Linked DNA regions of Homo sapiens. The protein of the gene in region 1 purifies or fractionates together with the protein of each later gene. This does not show direct contact. Each region holds a gene or a part of one and is shown on either strand. Other genes may lie near its edges.

The links.
Region 2: the proteins of NAXD (region 1) and SLC25A30 purify together in Homo sapiens (affinity purification with mass spectrometry; 2 studies listed by BioGRID and IntAct, with this or other methods). This does not show direct contact.
Region 3: the proteins of NAXD (region 1) and CYB5D2 purify together in Homo sapiens (affinity purification with mass spectrometry; 2 studies listed by BioGRID and IntAct, with this or other methods). This does not show direct contact.

What each region holds. Positions count from the first base shown.
Region 1 is NC_000013.11:110,609,926-110,618,739, forward strand, and holds the start of NAXD (ATP-dependent (S)-NAD(P)H-hydrate dehydratase), read left to right. Parts: upstream 1-5,619; 5' UTR 5,620-5,666; coding exon of another isoform or gene 5,667-5,676; coding exon 5,677-5,722; exon of another isoform or gene 5,723-5,749; coding exon of another isoform or gene 5,750-5,849; exon of another isoform or gene 5,850-6,428; intron 6,429-8,814. UniProt on the Homo sapiens protein: Catalyzes the dehydration of the S-form of NAD(P)HX at the expense of ATP, which is converted to ADP.
Region 2 is NC_000013.11:45,414,902-45,423,037, reverse strand, and holds the start of SLC25A30 (kidney mitochondrial carrier protein 1), read left to right. Parts: upstream 1-4,664; 5' UTR 4,665-4,738; exon of another isoform or gene 4,739-4,876; intron 4,877-8,136. UniProt on the Homo sapiens protein: Antiporter that transports inorganic anions (sulfate, sulfite, thiosulfate and phosphate) and, to a lesser extent, a variety of dicarboxylates (e.g. malonate, malate and citramalate) and, even more so, aspartate.
Region 3 is NC_000017.11:4,152,876-4,158,842, reverse strand, and holds the end of CYB5D2 (neuferricin isoform 1 precursor), read right to left. Parts: intron 4,170-5,967; coding exon 3,983-4,169; exon of another isoform or gene 3,920-3,982; intron 3,554-3,919; exon of another isoform or gene 3,419-3,553; intron 2,897-3,418; exon of another isoform or gene 2,650-2,896; intron 1,978-2,649; coding exon 1,761-1,977; 3' UTR 1,146-1,760; downstream 1-1,145. UniProt on the Homo sapiens protein: Heme-binding protein which promotes neuronal but not astrocyte differentiation.

The DNA.
Region 1 (8,814 bases):
TTATAAGTCTTTTGACTCTAAGTCCCTTAGCCGTAGGGGTCCCACTGAGGGACATGATAGACCTGGCACAGGTAGCACCCCCCCCCCCCCCCCCCCCCCCCGGCATCAATATGGGACAAAATAAAAGCTTGGCCATTGACACTGCCTCTGGCATACCTTTACAAAAAGCGGACTATAAACTAAAAAAAATCTGCATCCTCCCTAGTAGAATGGACACGCCTCTTGCCCAAAGGGGATCCAATTAAAAAAAAAAAAAAAACCTGAAAAACTAGTTCAGGCCATGATGGAAAGCTGGGGGTCAGACACGCCTCACTCCACTTTCCCCCATGCCTTGGAATTCAGGCACAAATGACCAGGCAAAATGCCTTTGCACCCTCGAAAAGAAAAACCCTCCTGCTGATTTTATGTGGGATGCTGTTAAAGCTGCTGTACCTTCTAGTACCTGGTTTTTACCACTTTTGGGCCCGTTAAGGGTGAGCTCATCGTTAATATTTGGCCCATGCATATTCAACTTGCTTGTAAAGTGCCTGTCTCTGGTTACAGCAGATCTAGGTAAAGGTGATCTTCAAGCTAGGGTTCCAGCTGCTTCCTGTCTTGGAATCAGACGCTCCTGCTGTCCCCTGGGGACCCTTAGATCAAGCAGCTGGAGATTCCCATGCCCTCGGTAGGCAGGGCCAGTGCTCTTAAATCAGCAGGAAGATGACACGGAAGACTGACCTCCTCCCTCATCTCCCTCAAGAATAAGGGATGGAATGGCTGAGCACGGTAGGTGGCTCATGCCTGTAATCCCAGCACTTTGGGAGGCCAAGGTAGGCAGATCGCTTGAGCTCAAGAGTTTGAGACCACCCTGCACAACATGGCAAAAACCCATCTCTACCAAAAATACAAAAATTAGCCGGGCGTGGTAGCACACACCTGTGGTCCCAGATACTCAGGAAGCTGAAGTCTGAGGATCGCTGGAGCCTGGGAAGGGGAGGCTGCAGTGAGCCATGATTATGCCACTGCATCCCAGCCTGGGTAACAGAGTGAGACCCTGTCTCAAAAAAAGAAAGAAAGAAAATAAATAAAAGAAGAAGGGATGGAAATCTCCAAGGGGGAAAATGAAATGGGAATAGCACTGGGTGGTCACAGGAGGATGGAAAAACCCAAACAACAGCTAGAATAAGAACGAGGCAAAGAAACCGCAGGTTAACAGAAAACCCAAAATAAGGAAGAGAAAATGGTCAAATCCTGGTCAGGGTGATATGTCCATGATCCTGGGAAAACTTGAATAAGGGTAAAAGTCTGTGGTAATGGGGGGAGGGAGTCCCTGAAATCACTCCTTTTCCAGAATACCTTATGATTATTCCACCCCCTAATTAAAAAAAAATCCATAAAATTAGAAACTCAAACTCTGATGTGACTCACTCTGCTGAGCACGCCCGCAATTCTCTTTTACGTGTGTGCTTTCGCTTTGCAGTAAAAGCTTCTTGCCTTTCGTTTCATTCTGACGTGTCCCTGAATTCTTTCTCATGCTGGTGTCAAGAACTTGGAAACTGGCTGGGGCTGGGGTCTCAGTGGCATCCAGAGACCCTCCGGAGACCTCCGACAGCTGTAGGTGATTGGGGGCGCCAATCACATAGGGGTCGGAGAGTGATGGAATGCACCTTAATTTTAATCTGAGTGTCATGGAAAACAGTTGGATGGTTCTATGCAGAGGAGTGACATGATCTGACTTATAGGAAAGATCATTCTATTGCTGTAGGAAAGCAGGGAGGTTAATTTATTAACAGAAGGTATTATGGGTTGAGTTGTGTCTCCTCAGAATATGTTAAATCCTAACCCCTAGTACCTGTGACTATAACCGTAACTGGAAGTGAGGTCTTTATAGATTATTGAATTAAGATGAGATGAGATCATTAGGGTGGGCCCTACTCCAATATGACTGGTGTCCTTAAAGGAGAGGAAAATCCCACGTGAGGACAAGGAGACCATCATGTGATGACAGAGGCAGAGGCTGGGGAGGGTGCCAAGGGCATTTTACAGTAAACCTGAAACACTCGTTCAGGCCGAGATGGAAAGGGGGGATGGATGCCTCATTATACCCTCCTCCCTTTGGAATTCAGGCACAGTTGACCAGCATTAACGTTAAAACAGAGACCTTAAGACTGACAAAGCAGAATTTTTGTAGCAATAAGATACCAATGTGACAGATTGCAAGCCCTGAAAGAAACTGGAGTATTTTACCCCAAATATATTCATTTGGCATATTTTGAAATAGCCTTGCAAAACTGTCTCTTTGGGGAAAAACATCTACATTCTGAGGAGACTCCCCTTCCTTTTCCAGGTCTTTTTCTTGATCCAGGAGATAATTTACTAAGAGTCCGGCACCTGAAGTTTGATAAGAAACATTTACAAAGTCCAGGTGAGGTGGGCCACACCTGTAATGCCAGCACTTTGGGAGTCTAAGGCAGAGGATCACTTGAGGTCAGGAGTTGGAGACCAGCCTGGCCAACACAGTGAAACCCTGTCTTTACTAAAAATACAAAAATTGGCCGGGTGTGGTGGTGCACGCCTGTAGTTCCAGCTACTTGGGAGGCTGAGTAGGGTGGATCGCTTGAACCTGGGGGGCAGAGGTTGCAGTGGGCCAAGATTGTGCCATTGGACTCCAGCCTGGGCAACAGAGTGAGACTCTGTCTCAAACAACAACAACAACAAAAAGAAACATCTACAATTCATTCTCTTTGAAGCCTGCTACCTGGAGGCCTCATCTGCACAACCCCTTATCTTAACCCAGACACTTCCTTCTACTGATTCCAAGTCTTTAAGTAAACTTTCTACCAATTGCCAATCAGAAAATCTTTGAATCCACCTATGACTGGAAGCTCCTCTCTTGGAGTTGTCCCACCTTTCTGGGCTGAACCAACGTACTTCTTACATGTACTGATTGATGTCTTCCGTATCCCTACCATGTATAAAACCAAGCTTAGCCCGACTACCCTGGGCACATGTTCTCAGGATCTGCAGGGGCTATGTTACAAGCCATGGTCACTCATCTTTGGATCAGAATAAATCTCGAATATTTTAGAGTTTGACTCTTTTCATTGACACTCATGCAGCAGACTATTGCCATCATCCAGGCCACACACTGTTAAATGGAAAAACCTTAGACACGTGTATGTTTTAACTGAGTGTATTTGAGCAAAACAAAACAGATTCCCGAATGGGGCAGCCCTCCAAACCAGAGCAGATAAGAGAACTCCAATCAGGAACCTGATCTGACAGCACCTATAGGAAACAGAAGTGTGTGATGGAGACAGCTAATTTGATTATAACTTCATTGCTTAACTGGTTACAGAGTTTCCTGCCATGAAGTAAAGCTCAGTTACTGTAGTTAAACTCCTTACTGGTTTGGTCTGGTAGGTGTAGTTCAGGGTTTCACTCTGTTATCAGAAAGGGGTTCCAATCCAGACCTCAAGAGGGTTCTTGGACCTTGTGCAAGAAAGAATTCTGGGCGAGTCCATAAATTGAAAGCAAACTTATTAAGAAAGGGAATAAAAGAATGGCTACTCCATAGGCAGAGCAGTGGCACTGGCTGCTTGACTGAATATACTTATGAGACTTGAAGCCAGCTGGACTTCCTGGGTCGAGTGGGGACTTGGAGAACTTTTCTGTCTTACAAGAGGATTGTAAAATGCACCAATCAGCACTCTGTAGCTAGGATTGTAAAATGCACCAATGAGCGCTCTGTAGCTAGCAAGAGGATTGTAAAATGCACCAATCAGTGCTCTGTAAAACGCACCAATCAGCAGGATCCTAAAAGTAGCCAATTGCAGGAAAGATTGAAAAAAGGGCATTCCGATAGGGCAGAAACAGAACATGGGAGGGGAGAAATAAGGGAATAAAAGCTGCCCCACCCCCCCACCCCCGCCAGCCAGCAGCAGCAATCCACTTGGGTCCCCTTCCATGCTGTGGAAGCTTTGTTCTTTTGCTCTTCATAATGAATCTTTTTTTTTTTTTTTTTGAGGTGGAGTCTCGCTCTGTGGCCCAGGCTGGAGTGCAGTGGCCCGATCTCGGCTCACTGGAAGCTCTGCCTCCCAGGTTCACGCCATTCTCCTGCCTCAGCCTCCTGGGTAGCTGGGATTACAGGCGCCCGCCACCATGTCCGGCTAATTTTTTGTATTTTTAGTAGAGACAGGGTTTCACCGTGTTAGCCAAGATGGTCTCGATCTCCTGACCTTGTGATCCACCCGCCTCGGCCTCCCAAAGTGCTGGGCTTACAGGCATGAGCCACCACGCCCGGCCTCTTCATAATAAATCTTGCTGCTGCTCACTCTTTGGGTCTATGCCACCTTTAAGAGCTGTAACACTGTGAAGGTCCGCAGCTTCATTCTTGAAGTCAGTGAGACCATGAACCCACCGGCAGGAACTAACTCCACACATAGTTATAGTTATCTCTTGATTATAGGCTAAATAAGGAGGGGATTATTCATGAGTTTTCTGGGAAAGAGGTTGGCAATTGCTGGAACTGAGGGTTCCTCCCCTTTTTAGACCATATAGAGTAATTTCCTGATGTTGCCATAGCATTTGTAAACTCTCATGGCGCTGGTAGGAGTGTCCTTTAGCATGCTAATACGTTATAATCAGCAAATAATGAGCAATGAGGACACAGAGGTCACTTTTGTGGCCATCTTGGTTTTGGTAGGCTTTGGGCCAGTTTCTTTACTGTGTCATCTTATCAGTGCGGTCTTTGTGACCTGTATCTTGTGCCCACCACCTCATCCTGTGGCCAAGAATGTCTAACCCCCTGGGAATGCAGCCCAGTAGGTCTCACCCTCATTTTACCCAGTCCCTATTCAAGATGGAATCGCTCTGGTTAAAAGGCCTCTGACATGTTGAGCCATCCTTTCACCTCAGCCTCTCAAGTAGCTGGACTACAGGTGTGCCACACCATCCCCTGCTAATTTTCCAAAAAAATTTTGGTAGAGAAGGGGGTCTCCTTATGTTGTCCAGGCTGGTCTCAAACTCCTGGGCTCAAACGATCCTTCCATCTTGGCCTCCCAAAGCATTGGGATCACACGCGCGAGCCACCGCACCTGGCCCCACAAGTTTCTTTTAGCACCATGACGGTGGCTTCAAATAGGGCGGCAGTGGAGGTAAGAGGCCATCAGCCACAGGAGGAGCGTGGGTGGGAGGGCAGGAGAGGTCAGAATGCCTTCCAGGGGTTTGGGCCTCAGCGTTGGAGTGATGGAGCTGCCCTGACCTGAGACGGTGGAAAGCGAAGGGGCCTCGCAGCGAGCTGGTTTGGGGTTCAGGGCAGAGGTTGCGCCTGGAGCAGAAAGGCACCTGACTGCTATACTGGGGGCACATAGTGGGCCTCGGCACTCCACCTGCCAGCAAAATCATTTTCTATAACGCCGCAAGCCTAAAAATGGGCCGATAAACACAAACCAGACCCTGAACCAGATCGTTGTTAACTCTTCAACCTGCCTTCCAGCCGAACCTCTTAGGCCAGAGCTGGGACCAGGCCGGGTTGGGCGTCGCGCTTGTCAATCATCTAGAACCGGGTGTGATTGAGCGAGTTGGGATCCCACTGCCGACAGCCGCGCGGAGGCGGTCGGGAAACCGGAAAACGCTTCCAATGGCTGTGTTTCCGGCGACGGCGCGGGGGCAGCTGGGAATCCGGAATGCTGCCCGATGGCCCTGGGTCCTCGCTGTGGGGCAATCCGGGCTTGCAGACGAGGTAAGGTCGATTCCATTTGGCCCGGGGATGGTCACACGCGCGGGGGCCGGAACTGCCGTCGCCGGCGCGGTCGTTGTCGCATTGCTCTCGGCCGCACTCGCGCTGTACGGGCCGCCACTGGACGCAGGTACCCGACCGCTGACCGCCTCTGCTGGCTCGCGGGGGGGAAGCGCCGCCGAGGGGCAGCCCGCGCGCGGGGCCGGGGCGCCGTGTGGCCTGCGGGGCGGAGTAGGGAGAGGACGGAGGCCTCCTGGAACGGCGCGGCGACGGCTGGGCGCGGCTTGGGTGATGGGAGCCTCCGTGCGGGGTGACAGAGGGGCAGAGGGTGGCGCCGGGCCGGAGCCAGTGCGCGTCCCAGGAGCGGCGGAGCCCGCGCGGTGGCCGGGGAACGGGGGGCCGAGGGCCGAGGACGGTAGGAGGGCCCTGGGGCGCCGTGGTGCGCTGGTCGGATCCGTCTGCTCTGCTCTGTCCCCGCTCCCGGTCTGGGAAAGATGCTCGCCAACTGCGGGCTTGCTGTTTGGTCGGAGCTGGATACGGGGGCCCTCCTGGGGCCCAGGGACGCGGCGGGCGTGCAGGCGAGCTGGCCGGCTGAGCGGGCTTCGCGCACACCAGGAGCAGGGCCGTGTCTGCATCCCCAATTTGAAGTCCCAGTGCGACTGGGCAAGTACAGACCCTGCACGTCCTTGGACGAGAGGGACTGGATATTGCGACGCCTGGGCCGCAGAAAAGGACTCCACCAGCCAGGCCTCCTTCGCCCGCCCCCGGTTCGGGGTGTGTGTGTGCGTGTAGGAGGTCCCTTGGGGAGGGAGGCTCACCTGAGTCATCCCCAGAACCTGAAGTGCTGGCCAGATGTCCCCGAGGGCCCTGCCCTGGCCTTGGCTGGTCCTTGCACGCTGAGATGCCTTTTCAAATAGAACGGATAAGGTAGAAAGAATTTAAACAGGAGCTGAGCAAGTGCTTGGAGCCCCATCTCTTCATAGGGTTTTTTTGTCTTTCTGTTTGCCTTGTTGGTATTGGTGTATCTAACATATTTTATACAGGAAGTAGTTCGTGTATATCTCATTTCTCATAAGGAGAGATTGCTGTTATCCACCTTGGTATAGAAGATAAATAGAAGCTCAGAGAAAGTGACTTAGCCAGGATTCTCCAGCCAGTGAGTGGCCGAAATGGTTAAACGCACCATTTGTTGCTGTAGTCATTAGATAGATTTTACCTTGTGTGTATGTTGGGCATCGTCAGAGAGTTTGGCTTTTTGTTTTCATCAGCACACACTGAGAATGCACTGGGTGGCGCTGAGAGGGTACTCTACACTGCACCTCACTCACACCAGCAGGGAGGCTTCTTAACACTTTATTTAGAGATTTATTTGTAGCTCTTTACCTTAAATTCACACACCGTGATTAGTAGCAAGATTTTTCATTGCGCTTGGTTGAGGATTTATTATCAGACTGCCTAAACTTTTACGAAAAGCCAGGTAGAGTTGTATATTACTGAGGCTTTAGGAAATATTTCAGTTAACTTAGGGATTGTGGTTAAATGCTCTAAATTAGTTATAACTCACATTAACTTAAAGTATTTTTGTTTTTTTAAGTAGAATTTTCCAGTACTAAAAGCACTTTTAGCACAAAGCAGCAGTGATAGTCTTCCCCAGACACGCTTCCTTAAAACAAAAGCCAAACAAATTTAACCTGTTCTTCCAGACTCAGAATTGTCTGAAGAGTTACCGAATGGGATACATCTTAAGTCGCCTATTGTCAAGGCCTTTTTATCCTTCAGAACTTTGATCTTTATATGTAAATGTTTCTGTGTTAACATTTGAAATGTTAAGTTCAAATGGTGACGTCAGTAAGCCAGCTGGAACTTGCTTCACTGCCAAGTGCTGGGAAGTTTAGTTGACCTGCTTTGGCCCTTTTGCTAACAGAAGCTGTTTATCTTAGGTGAATGCTGGTGAGCAGCCTGGATTTTACTTTGTGTTAATACAATTCTATTCAAGTGAAAATGCTATACTTCTTATTTTGCCTTAAAATGGCAGCATTTTACACCTACTGTGTGCCCACAAAAATAAAAACAAAAACATGGCAGCACTTTGGTAAAATAGTGTCTTGTGGCCTGGCTTGTCCATTACTAACCACAGCATCTGCACAGGTTTCTCTCTGGGCCCCAGTTTCCTTATCTGTAAAAGAAAGATAAAGTGCTAGTGAGGAGAGTGAATCACGATGTCTTGACTTCATCGAACATGTATCAAGTGTCTTGTTCTGTGCCAGGCTGTGTTCGAGGTGATTGAGTCCCACATGGAAGCAGTCAGTGCTGCAGCTTGCGGATGGTGCCACATTCCTCGTGGGCAGGCAGTAGTAGGGTGCTGATTCTCTGCCAGTCCAGACATAAGAACTTCCTTCTTATGTCCAGGTCAGCCCCTACCATGTAGGTTGTCTGTGTGCTCGAAAGGTTTCAGAACCCCACATGTAATAATAGTTACTTTTGGTATCACTTTGAATTTTTAAAATTATGTAGCAAAAAAGTTACTATTAATTATATTATGAGTTTAACATAATTTTAAGCTAGCTTCCATTTGAGAGCCGTTGTTCTCATGTGTAAATCTTGAAATATTCAGTTTCTGGATGGCGCTTCTTGTTCTCCAGGGTTCTTAGACCCAGCCCTTACGGTAGCATCATGGCCAGGGAACTGGGAATCTCACAAAGTCTTAAGATTTCACAACGGAACAGGAGCAGGAGGAGGCGACTCCCGCTGGTGGGTTGATCAAGTTGCTGTGAAGGTGGTTTGCACATTTTGGGCTTCAAAACACTACCTTCTGTATAAGATAAAGGAATAGCTCAGAACAGGATTCCCCCCGTGTTTTCTTCCTAGCTATGATAAAGATTGCCGTGTGAATGCAGTGGGTTTTACACACTCAGAATTGATATTTTTGGCTTGTGGTAAATGGGACTTTAATGCTTAACCTGCTGTAGAAAAATCCGCCTTAGAAAGTGGCCCTTATTCGTATATTGTATTCGATGTTTGAGCCCCCTGATATCTTATCATTTTAACAAAGCTTACCTTGAAGTGCAGGAAAAATTGTATGTGTTCTTGTCATT
Region 2 (8,136 bases), about 65 Mb from region 1:
ACTGTCGAGAAAACTGCTCATTCTTTTGAAGTGCGGTAACTGTTCTCATAGCAGCATGGATGCACAAAGAGGGCAGGCACCCATTTCACCCAGTTTTTAGTGATTAGGAGAGACTTCCTGGAGGACATGGTGTCCAAACTGAGGCCTGATGGATGAGAAGGGCTTAGCAAGAGAAATAACTCAGCAGGTGCAATGCAGTGTGTGCCAAGTTGCAGAGGTAAAAGGGAGTATCCCTGTGTTTGGGGAGCTGTGAGTATTTTATACAGCCATTCAGTGACTTACACAAAAGATGCATTCTCAACAAAGCACCTGTAACCAAGAAAAACAAATGCCCAAAGCAACATTCCTATAAAACAGGATTTCTAAAACTTCAGTACTATTGCCACCTTCCTGGGCATTGTTGAACGTTTAGCAGCAACCTAGGTCCCTACCAACTTGCCAGTAGCAAGCATCTAGTTGAGGCAACCGAAAAACTCCAGACATTGTGAATTTCTCCTGGAGGGCAAAATCTGATTCAGATTGAGAACCGCTGCAATAAAATATAATGATAAAGAATTTTATGGGCTCATTCCCAGTACACCAGCTAGGAACACTGGCCTATCCAGGTGTTCTTCTTAGGAGTAGCAATGGCTCATTGCTTCTGCATTTTGCCAAGGAGAGGAGGTGACCAGATGTCTCAGTCAGATACAACCTCCTCCTTTCGCCAACCACCAAATGTTACCCCTAAAAGGTCTGACTAAGCCCTTTCATTCTGCAAGCACCAACCATCCAGAAAAACCTGTGAGACTCATTCTTGACAAGACGCAGGTCCATATTATCTGCATCATTCCTGTAGTTTAATGTAATTAAACAAACATTTATCAAATTGTAGTTGATTCCAAAGCATTTGTTATTTATTGCCACTATATAGTGCACACACAATTGCCAAGATGATGAAAACCATGATGTGGGTAAAAAATGGTTCCTGCTGCCCAGCTCCTCATAGAGATTGGCATCATCCACCTAAGGGAGTGTAGTGAGGGCTTTTGGCTGTGTGGATGTTACTGTTCTAACAGTTTGCTAATAAAAGGCCTAAATGGCAATAAAAGCCCAGCTACTTGAGAAGTGCCTATATGGCCAGACTTTAGAATGTAGGATTGAGGGGCAAGTGCATGGGTGAGGAGGATAGGGAACTGGATTCTTATGGCTGGAGGGCTCTAAGGACCACGTGGTCAGGGGCCTTAATCTTGAGGACACTGGGGAGCCAATGAAGAATTTTAAGCTGGTGAGTGCCATGGCCAGATGAATTCAAAGATATTTCTACAGCACTTACATTTTACAAAGTATGTTTTTGCACACGTCGCCTCATTTAACATTCTGTAGGGAGGGTATTGTTTCCATTTTGCAACTGAGGACTTTAATTAACTCAAGGCCAGAGAGCTAATAAAGCTGTGGCCAGGATTGAGTAGAACCTAGGTCTTCATTTCCATATTGCTACCTGGGTGTGTTAACTGTAGTCAGATAAAAAACATGCACAAAGAGCCAAATAGGGGGAAAGTTGAAGGCAAAGAATAGATGAAAAAGAAGTTGCTTCCAACAGGGACTGGCACTGAATAGTTCGTAGATATATTTCTGGACTTACCACTTTTTTTTAATTCTTTTTTTTTTTTTTTTTTTTTGGAGATGGAGTCTTGCTCTGTTGCCCAGGCTGGAGTGCAGTAGCACGATCTCAACTCACTGCAACCTCTGCTTCCCAGGTTCCAGCAATTCTCCTGCCTTAGCCTCCCAAGCAGCTGGAACTATAGGCAGGCAGCACCATGCCCGGCTAATTTTTGTGTTTTTAGTGGAGATGGAGTTTCGCCATGTTGGCCAGGCTAGTCTTGTACTCCTGACCTCAGGTGATCCACCTGCTTCGGCCTCCCAAAGTATTGGGATTATAGACGTGAGCCACCACGCCTGGCCTTTTTTTGTTATTCTTGTTTCTAAACTGGTTATGCTGCTGCAACCAAGTTACTATTCCCTAGAGAAATAGTTTCCAATCCCTGGGCCAAGACCCTTGGAGGAACCCAAGGTTACTGCAGGGGCCCCACAAATTCCATATGCATTTTCATAATGGACACTGAAAATACTACCATCTATTTTATAGGGACTCAAAATTTTTAAAAAATTCAGTTTTCTTTCAAAAAGATCTTTGGCCAGGCATGGTGGCTCATGCCTGTACTCCCAGCACTTTGGGAGGCCGAGGCAGGAGGATTGCTTGAGTATAGGAGTTCGAGGCTGCAGTGAGCTGTGACTGGGCCACTGCACTCCAGCCTGGGTGACAGAGCGAGACCCTGTCTTGAAAAACAAAACAAAACAAAAGCACAAAAAAACCCACAAAGGGATCTTCATACTTGAAGGCTGGCCATTCCTGTGTATTTCTAAGTATTATCTGAGTATTAGCATGGGCTGGTGGGGCTTAGGGTAATGGTAGAGTTTGGGTGTCCAAAAGCTCTACAGGAAAGGGAGGAATCCAGTGCTTTGTATGTAGTACCACACAGTCATGAGTCTGGAAAGGACTTGGTGAGGTGAGAGAGAGGTAGAAAGGGTCATGTACTTATTTCCCTGCCCTAGAAAGGCAAGCATTCCAATGACTTTCCCCCACAGGCTGGGGATTGTATTTGTTTTTATGGCCAGAATTCAGGGGATACTTCAAAGGGGTCCAAATTTTATTGATTTCAAAACATTGTGTGGCCAAAAATCCAGGTACTCACCTAGAGTCCAAGTTGGAGCACAGAAAAGAGATTGTTTAAGCTCAACCTGGGGCCTGAGCTGGAGACACAAGAGAAGGAAATGAGAGAGAGATGGCCCTGGGCCCTGGTTCTGTAACAGGGCAGTTATCTCATGAAACCTCTGTTCTGTCATCTGTAAAATGGAAATAACATTTCTTTGTCTTGAATGAACCAAGGGATGTAAAGATTCCTGGAGTAGCACTTTGCATCAACAGATGCAAGTTTTATACATATGCATTTTCCTTCCTCCCTTCCTTCCTCCCTCTTTCTCCTTTCCCCTTTCCTTTCTTCCCCTTCCCCTTCCCTTCGCCTCCCCTCCCTTTCCTTTCCTTTTCTTTCTCTCGCGCTGTCACCCAGGCTAGAGTGCAGCAGCTAGAGTGCAGCAGCTAGAGTGCAGCGGCGTGATCTCGGCTCACCTCAACCTCCACCTCCCAGCTTCAACTGATTTTCCTGCCTCAGCCTCCCGAGTAGCTGGGATTACAGGTGTCCATCACCACGTCCGGCTAATTTTTGTACTTTTAGTAGAGATGGGTTTTCTCCATATTGGTCAGGCTGGTCTCGAACTCCCGACCTCAGGTGATCTGCCCGTCTCGGCCTCCCAAAATGCTGGGATTACAGGCATAAGCCACTGAGCCCGGCCCCAGTTATATGTTTAAATCATGAGTTCACAGCCGGGTGCCGTGGCTCACACCTGTAATGGCAGCACTTTGGGAGGCCGAGGCAGGCGGATCACCTGAGGTCGGGAGTTCGAGACCAGCCTCACCAATATGGAGAAACCCCATCTCTACTAAAAATACAACAATTAGCCGGACGTGGTGATGGGCACCTGTAATCCCAGCTACTCGGGAGGCTGAGGCAGCAGAATCACTTGAACCTGGGAGGCGGAGGTTGCAGTGAGCTGAGATGGTGCCATTGCACTCCAGCCTGGGCAACAAGAGTGAGGCTCTGTCTAAAAACAAAACAAAACAAAAATATACCTGGGTATGCTTGAACACAAACACTGCCATACCGTTAAAAATGTTATATATTAATATATAAATAAATATTTACATATATGTATATTAGATATATATGTAAAGATTTCTACTCATAGTACGGTTCTTTTAATTTTTTGTTCTGTTTGGACATTTTCTTTCTTTTTTTTTTTTTTTTTTTTTAAGAGGGAGTATCACTTTGTCGCCCAGGCTGGAGTGCAGTGGCGCGATCTTGGCTCACTGCAACCTCCGCCTCCCGGGTTCAAGCGATTCTCCTGTTTCAGCCTCCCGAGTGGCTGGGATTACAGGCACCCGCCACCAGGTCTGGCTTTTTTTTTTTTTTTTTTTTTTTTTTTTTTTTTTTTTTTTTTTTGAGACGAAGTCTCGCTTTGTTGCCCAGGCTGGAGTGCAGTGGTACGCTCTCTGCTCACTGCAATCTCCGCCTCCCAGGTTCAAGCGATTCTTCTGCCTCAGCCACCCAAGTAGCTGGGATTATAGCGCCCGCCGCTATGCCCGGCTAATCTGTATATTTTCAAGCTAAAAGCTGGGGTATAAAAAAATAAGGGCAAGTTTACTTCCATCCAACTGTGAAGGTTCACGGGGGCACCGTGAGAAGGTTGCCCCCTGCGAAGGTTGCTTTTCCACGGTTCTCGATGCGTTCCCCAAATTTCTCTTCCACCTCCCAGTCGATATCGGAGGCCACATCAGGTGTCACCGAGTCCCGGGCAGCTCCCTCAGGCAGCGGCAGGGGAAGATCCTGAGGGGCACTTGGGACGGGCCCCGCCCCTCCGTGTCCCCATCTGGGGCTGTCAGGGGTGTGGCTAGTGCTGGCAGAAACCAATGGGAGCTGAGGAGGTCGCGTGTTTGCGCGGACGGGGCGGGGCGGCGCGGGGCTGCGTGCAGGCTCGTGGGTCTGCCCCGCCCGCGACGGCATTTTTTCCTTTTCTCCAGCGGCCTCAGGTTCTTGTTACAACTGAGTCCGGGTTGGAGGAGGTGTGGGGCCGCTGCCGCCAGGTAAGTCCTGGCCCGTGCCTCCTCCTGCCGGCCCCGCTTTCTCTGCGGCTCCTGGAACCCGGGCCTGGGGTAAGGTTGGGCTGCGATTTCCGAGGAGCCTCCTTTGCAACCGGGCGTGCTCGGGGCTGCCTGTGCTCTCCACTTCGCAGGCCGGGCCGGGCTCGGCGGGGCGCGAGGTTCCGGGGACTGGGGACAGGGCTCTGCTTCTCGGGCTGCTGCCTCCTTGGGTCGGGCCGGTGCCGCGGGGCCCCCATCGCTGTTGGCGTGGGGTGATTCCTGTTCCAGGGTCATTCAGATCCGAGTGCGAAGCCCGTCCTGGCATCTCCGCGTCTGCTAACGAGCCCCGGGCTTGCAACCCTGCTTGTGCGTCCCTCCCACTCGTGCGTTCATTCAAACGGCAGCCTGAGCGCCCGCGAGCTTCGCACTGTGGGAGAGGGCACACCACATTCGGAATCGCTCGTGGCACACAGGCTGGGAGGAACTTGCCTGGAAAGTTAATGTACCTCTGGGTTTTGAAGTCTTTCTAGGTGCACTTTCATGTAAAGCAGTTGCAGTGATTAGCATTTTTGTTCTGCGCAAGAGTAGCAAACAATGTTGGCACTGCCCTGCGGATTCGGCTTGCGGTGCTACTTGGGTAGTGAGAAAGTTGAAAGGCATGAATCTTGCTTTTGGCTTTGCCGTTGCGAAGCTTTGTGACCGCGGGCTCAGTTAATTAACGTGAAACGAGATGATAATTTCGAAGATTTCTTTTAAACCCGGCTTTTTGTAAGTCTGTGATGAGCTTAGTTTTCCTTCTGCACCTTTAAAAAGAATAGGAAATAGGAAAAGTTCATGAAAGGGCATTATTGAAAGGGCAGTCGGTCCAGCAAGGAACAATAAATGTATGAGAGCACATTAAAGGCTGTGCAATTACAGTTTTAAGACTTAAGACTAAAAAGGGAACAGGAAGTAAAACTGAAAGAACTTACCAAGAATTAAATAAGAGAAACGGCTGGGAGCGGTGGCTCAGGCCTGTAATCCCAGCACTTTGGGAGGCCGAGGCGGGCGGATCACCTGAGGTCAGGAGTTCGAGACCAGCCTGGCCAACATGGAGAAACTCCGTCTCTACTAAAAATACAAAATTAGCCGGGCGTGGTGACGGATGTCTAATTCTAGCTACTCGGGAGGTTGAGACAGGAGAATCGCTTGAATCCAGGAGACGGAGGTTGCAGTGAGCCGAGATCATGCTATTGTACTCCAGCCTGGGCAATAAGAACAAAACTCCGCCTCTAAATAAATAAATAAGAGAAACTTGGAAAGCGTTCAAAAGTACGAACAGCTAGTATTATATTTAATTACCTCCCTTTACAGCTGTACACATGAGGTCAGGTGGGTGAAAATAAATACTAAGCAACCATGTAAGAGAAAATGTAGACAGGATGTGTAACTTAGCATATATCCTAAGTGTAGGGAGAATCCTTTGAAATTCTTAATTTGTATAGACAATTTCATTCAGAAAACTTGTTTTTAACCTTTATTTATTATTTGGGACAGGGTCTTGCTCTGTCACCCAGGCTGCTAGAGTGCAGTGTCATGGTCTTAGCTCACTGCAGCCTTGAAGTCCTGGGCTTATGTGCCCCTTCCACCTCAGCCTGCGGAGTAGCTGGGACTAGAGTCGCGTACCACCATACCTAGATAATGTTTTGGATTTTTTTAGTATAGGTGGTCGTCTCATTCTGTTGCCCAGGCTGGTCTTGAACCCCTGGCCTCAAGCTATTCTCCAGCCTCAGCCTCCCAAGTAGCTGGGATTACAGGTATGTGTGACTAGCCCAGCTAACATTTTTGTTGTTGTTTTTTTACTTTGTATTTTTCACTTTTTTTTGTATTTATTTATATATTTATTTATTTATTTGAGATGGAGTTTTGCTTTTGTTGCCCAGGCCGGGGTGCAGTGGTGCGGTCTCAGCTTACTGCAACCTCCGCTTCCCAGGTTCAGGCAGTTCTCTTGCCTCAGCCTCCCGAATAGCTAGAATTACAGGCGCCCACCACTATGCCTGGCTAATTTTTGTATTTTTAATAGAGACAGGATTTCACCGTGTTGGCCAGGCTGGTCTCGAACTCCTGACGTCAGGTGATCCACCCGCCTCGGCCTCCCAAAGTGCTAGGATTACAGGCATGAGCCACCGTGCCCGGCCTGTTTTGTTTTTAACTTTAAAAAATTTGGACCGGGCGCCGTGGTTCATGCCTATAATCCCAGCACTTTGGGAGTCGGAGGCAGGCAGATCACAAGGTCAGGAGTTCGAGACCAGCCTAACCAACATGGTGAAACCCCATCTCTACCAAAAATACAAAAATTAGCTGGACGTGGTGGCACGTGCCTGTAATCCCAGTTACTCAGGAGGATGAGGCAGGAGAATTGCTTGAACCTGGGAGGCAGAGGTTGCAGTGAGCTGAGATAGCACCACCGCACTCCAGCCTGGGTGAAAGAGCGAGACTCAGTCTCAAAAAAAAAAAAAAAAAAAAATTATTCAGCCAGGCACCAACAGCTTTCTTTCTTTTTTTTTTTTTTGTGATGGAGTCTCGCTCTGTCACCCAGGCCACAGTGCAGTGGCGCCATCTTGGCTCACTGCAACCTCTGCCTCCCGGGTTCAAAGCTATTCTCCTGCCTCAGCGTCCCGAGTAACTGGGATTACAGGCATCTGCCACCATGCCCAGCTAATTTTTGTATTTTTAGTAGAGACCGGGTTTCACCATGTTGGCCTGGCTGGTCTCGAACTCCTGACCTCAAGTGATCCACCCTCCTCCACCTTCCAAAGTGTTGGGATTACAGGCTTGAGCCACCACACCCGGCCAACAGCTAACATTTTTAAAAATAAAATTTTTTATTTCCTCTGCTGGAAAATTCTATATTTATTCTGAATGTATAGAATTCCCTGCCCTGCCCCCCACCAATATTTTTTTAACAGCCCTTGGAAGATAGTGTCTGCAAAGTACTATCTAGAGGAAGGGTCATGTGATCCTTCAGAGAAACCTTAGTTTGAATATTTGGTAGCTTTGACCAGGGAAAGTTACTTTTCTTCTCTGAGGCTGTTTGCTTAGTTGTGAGATGTGGATAATGATACCTCTTTCATAGGACTGTGAAGAAAATGTATAGCAATGCCTAACAGCAGGTATTCAGGGATGACTGCTAGTGTTAGTATTATGTTCATAACGCAGCAAGGAGAAGTAAGGAATTACTGGGTTTTAGCATGGCTTAGAGAACATGGCTGTAAGAGGACTGTCAAATCAGAAGTGATCTACAGCCACTGCCCGACACTGGAATTTCTGCAAAGTTGTAATTCCTTCCCCGAGATGCTGCCCAGACACTATTGACTGCTAAGGACACATTAATCTCTCTAACTGTCTTGGCTTGTCAGCCT
Region 3 (5,967 bases), on another chromosome or scaffold:
GAGGGAAGGAAAGGGAGAGAATGAGGGAGGCAGAGGTCCCAGGACCTGCAGGCGGGTTAGGAGGAGGGAAGGGAGGATGGAGTGTGGACGGCTGCTCGGATGCTGACTCTGCGTGTAGCTGGTGGTGCCATTCCCTTGGAGAACTAGAAGCAGCATGGGAGGGGAAGGTGAAATGCTCTGCAAAGCTGCCTGGAGTAGACGTGCAGGTTTGACGGTCTAAGTAACTGTCGGATTTGGAGTGAGAGGAGCCAATGGGAAGGGGTTTGTGGAGGCAAAACGGGGTTCTCAAGGCAATTAAGAAGGAATGGGCAGAGGCAAAAAGGGAAGCAGGATAAAGCCCAGCGAGGGTTTCATGGAGGACCCCACGGTCCACAGTATCCAGAGTGACAAAGCCTAGGTAAGAACTGGATGTGACCACGGAATGTGCCAATGCAGAATTTCTCCTGATTTTTAGAGCAAATGGAGCTGAAAAGCAAAGCTAGTGAGTATAAGCCAAAACTGGAGTTGAGGGAATGTTTATGATGTGAGAGAAGTGAGCTGTTTGATGCATACCTGGGGGAAGATCCAGGAGACGGGGAGAGGTTAAAGGTACAAGAGGGGCAGGTGAGGAGGATGGCGGGGGCAGGCAAAAGGAGCCATGAGCCAGAGCCCAAGTGTAAGGAACAGCTGTGGCCATAGGGGCAATAAGCCCGGGTCTGCCAGTGAGGGGACAGGGGCAGTGAGCACGGGTCTGCCAGTGAGGGGACAGGGGCAGTGAGCACGGGTCTGCCAGTGAAGGGGACAGGGGCAGTGAGTACGGGTCTGCCAGTGAAGGGGAGGCAGCCTCCATTTTCTAGTCTGTGAATCTGGAAAGCGATTTAGTGAAATGAATGATGGAGAAAAAGGAGACAGTGACAGAGAGGGAGGAAGCTGGTGGATGTTGAGGGTGAGACTGAGCGGCAAAGGGAGCTGGGTGGAAGCTCTGATGAGGCGATGCACAGAGGCCGTGGCGCTGTCTGTGGTAGTGCTGGTCCCACTTCTCTGTCTGAAGTAGGAACACTCCTTGCCCCCATCTACCTTCACAAGTAGTCAAGAGGTAACAGGTATGACATTGCCAGATGACGCTGGACATACAAACCACTGGACAAGCAGCAAGCCCAGCCACCTTAAGTTTGAAGCCTTGCCCAAGCTTTAATGTCATGCTAACCAGTTACCTTGTTAGAGCTGGGAAGCCACCTTTTGCTCAAAATGCAGACTTCTGCCTTTGAAAACACACCACACCTGATTTTAAGTGCTTAAAGGACAGAAAATGTCGTTGCTTTAAATTGTTGCTTTGTTCAGAGACATCTGGATTTGCTGTATCCATACAAGCAAAAGCTTTTCCAATTCCAGAATCAACCCACACTAATTTGTTATTGCCTCGTACTGTATTGGCCCAGCTGTAATCAACTCAGCAGGCTTTTGGTTGTAAATTCAAGTGGAAATTGAGTTGGTCTTATTTGTGCCCGTTGATATCTGAGGGCTGTGAGGAAGATGGCCAGTAGGTCAAAGGGAATAGTGTTGAAAAGCTGACCAGTACTGGGCAGGTGGCCGGCTGTCCCTCAGGCACCACAACGCCGAGCCACGGTAAGGGGCATGAGCCACATTTGCAGAATATAGCCAGAGTCCTTCCAGACCCTCCTGATTCGCGCCAGGAGGCATCCCAGGGCACACAAGTGTCAAGGGCCTACTCAGGTGCTTGGCAGAGCTCTCTGTGTGTTATTAACAGAAGAGGCTACGGCTTAGAGTGGAAAGGAGCATGTGATGGCTAGCGGTGGGCAGCCTGTGTACTCTGCCAAGTTTGGGTGGTCCAGGTCCCCACGATTTCTGTGTGGAGGGTTGTCCGGCATCTGGCCACTAGGGGGGCCGGTGGTTCTCACACACACGCAGCGGGGCTCCTTAGCACCTGGCTTATACAGCTTCCTGGGGACGCCAATCCAGTCTCTGCTCACACCTCCACTAAGGATAGACGGAAAGAGGACTTCTTAAATGTGAGAACTCATGAGTCTCTGGGAAGGGGAGAGCAGGAAGCAGAGAGCCAGGCCTTCTGAAAAGTAGAAGCCTACCAGAGTGTTTCCCAAGGCAGCAGGCTACAGCGCTCAGCCCCTGAGCCTTCATGCTCTCTCCTAACATCCTCCAGCTTCCCCTGCAGGGCCACCACCACCTTCCCCAGGCCAAGGGCACAGTCCATGGTTCCTTTCACTGTGCTCCCCAGCCCCTGCCCTGCCCCTTCTTAGGAGGCAGCACCACGTTCCTGCACTGGTGGCAACAGCTGTGAAAGGGCTTCCCCTGCTGGCCTGTGAGCTTCTCAGAAGCAGTGTCTGGGTGCGACTGTCCTCTTCCTTCCCCACTACAACCCAGCGCAGGTCAGGGTCTTCACCTTCTTCTCTGGGGCACTTGGCTGGGGGTGGGCAATTGGGCCCTGGCCCTTGGCCACCTGGGTCGGCCTTCTCTGGGAAGCCCTTGGCATAGAGTGTAGCTGCAAGCTGTCCTGTGCCCCACAGGTCCAGTCCTTGATGGCACTAGGCTTCAGACACGGAGGATTCAGCTGTGGCCCAACAACCTGAGCACCCTCCTATCTTGGGCAGGGGCCTTGCCCACCTCAGGGCACTGGGCTCAGTCTCTGATGGACTCAGAGGCCTTGCAAGAAAGAAACTGAGGTTCTTGGAACTGACGCCTCAGACAGCTTCCGGTGCCTGCTGTCAGAGAAACTGCCCCCAGCGAGAAAACATCCTACTTCTAGCTTACCAAGAACAAGGCTGTCACCCAAACGCCTCCCTCTTCTACCCAGCCTCCATCCCATCATTGGGGATCTGTACTCCACACCTTGTCCCTGCCTTCGGCACTTGTTCCTCTCAGTCTAATGGGACACACACAGGTGAACAGAAGACAACAAACTGAGCTGAGGCACAGGGATAGGGCCCCGCAGTTCACTAGGGTGGCCCTGGAAGGGTTTTGTGGGGAAGGCAGAGCCTGAACTACTCAGTCATGAAAGCAAGAAGAGGTTCAGGAGACACAGGGGAAGGCTGTGGGGAGGGAAAAGGAGGCAGGGCCCAAGGAAGCAAAGTCAAGCATCTGAACGCACGCAGGCCTCCTGGAGTCTCCTCCTCCTGGAGTCTCAGAGACCAGTGCTCTCTGAGGCTACCTGCATTCAGGCCTGTGTCACAGGAAGGCCCACGCCTATCTTAGCTTCTCTCCATAAAGTGAGCAGGCCAGGTTCTCACAGTCCCCTCTTTCTTGAGATGACACTGGAGAAGCTGTCTCTTCAAAGCTAGCGGCCAGGAAAGAAGGAGCTTTCCTTCCTGCTACCTTTGCCCTTGCTCCGCTCATTTAAGGCTGAGAACTCCGAATTTGCAGTGGTTTTTTTTGTTTGTTACTGTTTTTTTGTTATGTTGCCCAGGCTGGACTCCAACTCCTGAGCTCAAGCGACCTGCCTGCCTCAGTCTCCCAAGTAGCCAGGACCACAGGTGTGGCCCACAAGCCACCATGCCCGCCTCACCTGTTTTTAAGACAGCAGTTGAAGCCATCACTGCAGGTACCCTCCCCACCTCCTCGTCCCTCTCCTATAGATAGGCATGATTTGTGCTGTCAAACAGGAAACCAAAGCCCGTGGGTGGCTGAGCAGGCCAAAGAAAGCAAGAAATCCTGCTTGTGCCTTCTCATTCCCGGGTCAAGGTTGTGTCAGCAGGATCTTTGGAGAATTCGGAAAAAATAAAAAGATGCCCAGGCCTCAAGTCCAAGTCTCAACCCATTCAGTTGAGTGGAGTGAGGTCTGACCATCCGTAATTTCGGCAATTCCCCAGAAGATCTAATATGCAGCCAAAGTTGAGAATTATTATCAGTATTTTGAAAAAGCTCCCCAGGGTTAACAATCAATTCCTGAATTCACTGAATACTGCAGGCAGGATGGCCTAGGAGTTGGATTTGGGACAGGCAGAAAGGAGAAGAAGGGGAGCCTGCTTACCTCTTCTGGGAGCACCAGAGCCGGCTGCCCCTGGCTGAGCTCCACTCCGCGTTGCACGGCGGGAATGTCTGCTTCTCTTGCAGCTGTAGTTTGTTGGCCTCCAAGCCTCTGGTGATCGCAGCTTCTACCTGGGTCAGTGCCGGGGTGGGCAGCCCATCCTCTCCGTAGAACCGTCCTGTCACCCTCCCTGTGATGACAGGAAGGCAGATGTGAGTGAGAGTGAATACTCAGCTGCTGAGGCAGGTGTGGGAAGGCACAAGTTCCCAGGGTTTCTGACTTCAGTCCTGCTGGTGCGCGTTTAATAAGAACTTCTACTGCAGGCACTCCTGGTGCCTTGCACACCAACCTCTTAGCACCCTACAAGCCCCCACACAGCTGCATCCCTCTTCTAGCTGCAGAGCCCTTCAGCACAGAAACCATCAAACCTCTCTCACTTCCAGACAAGGCTTCCCTGAGGGCACAGCCATGTGTGATTCATTTCTCCATGCTTCCATGTGCTTGGAGCACACGCTGGGTATTCAATTAATGTTTGATGAATGAATGGCTTATTGGCTAACATTTTTTAAATGTTTATTATAATAGAGATGGGGTCTCACTCTGTTGACCAGGCTAGTCTTGAACTTCTGGGCTCAAGCAATCCTCCCACCTCAGCTTGTTGAGTAGATGGGGGTACAGGTGTAAGTCACACTGTGCCCGGCTTTAAAATGCCTGTCAGAATTTGTAAAAGTCTAAGCTATGGCAGCAGCCAGCAAGTGGTCCACCAGCCTATAGGCCAGAAGGAAAAACAGGTCAGTTCTCTCAGCCCAGGGTCCTAATGTAGCCCAGTCCTGAGGTGCAAATGCCCTTCAGAGGCAGCACCTGCCACAAGGCAAGAGAAGCAGAAAGGAAGCACTTGAGGGAGGTGCGACCGAAGAGGGAGCAACCCCTAAGAACTAGCTTTACCTTCGATTCTAGTGGCGCGTATGTTCAGCGCATCTGAGATTCAGCTCGTCTCCCAAGTCCAACGCCCTCCCTGACTTTCCCAAATCCGTGTTGCCTCTAGCCTGTGACCTGCATTAGGAGCCTGACTCCTCCTCCTCTACATCCACATCATACTCCCTTCCTTGCTGTCTGATCGGATCCATCAGAAAACCTCGTCAGTCCTACCTCTGAACAGATCCTGATTCTGTTCACTCCTTTCCATTCCCACTGCCATCACCCTCCTCCAAACCACGGACTGTGGCAGTGGCCTCCTAACTGCTCTCTGGTCAGCTCATGCCCTCCTAGAGTTCTCTGTCCATAAAACAACTAGGGGATCTTTTAAAAACATGAATCCTACCATGGCTCTCCGATGCCTGATTAAAACCCTTCAATGGCTTCTTAAAGCAGACAAAAATGCAAATTTCTTATCAAGGCCTCTAAGGCCCTGTAACCATTTAACTGATTTGCTTCTTCAGCCTCTTACAAGCTACGTCCCCCCTCGTTCACGGGGGGCTCCAGCACACTGGCTTCCTTTCTGTGTCTTGGCTGTGCTTCCCCACTCCCCACCTTCGCACCGCTCTTCCCTGACCCAGCACACTCTCCTCAGGTCTCGGTGTGGCTGCCTCCCACTCACCTGCCGGTCTCAGCTTAACGGTCATTTTCTCCAAGAAGCCACTCCTGAGCATGTGCTCTAAAGGAGCCAAAGCTCCCAAACGTATTACATCACAGTTTGATGCATGGTCCTATGTGGAGTTGTTCAATCTGTTTACTTGTCTATGATGGCTCTCTCTACTAGTGAGGCGCAGTACTCAGAACAGCTTAGCGCCAGGCGCAGCGGCTCACACCTGTAATCCCAGCACTTTGGGAGGCTGAGGCGGGCAGATCACTTGAGGTCAGGGGTTCGAGACCAGCCAGGCCAACATGGTGAAACCCTGTCTCTACTAAAAATACAAAAATTTGCTGGGCGTGGTGGTGCATGCCTGTAATCCCAGCTACCCAGGAGGCTGAGGCAGGAGAACTGCTTG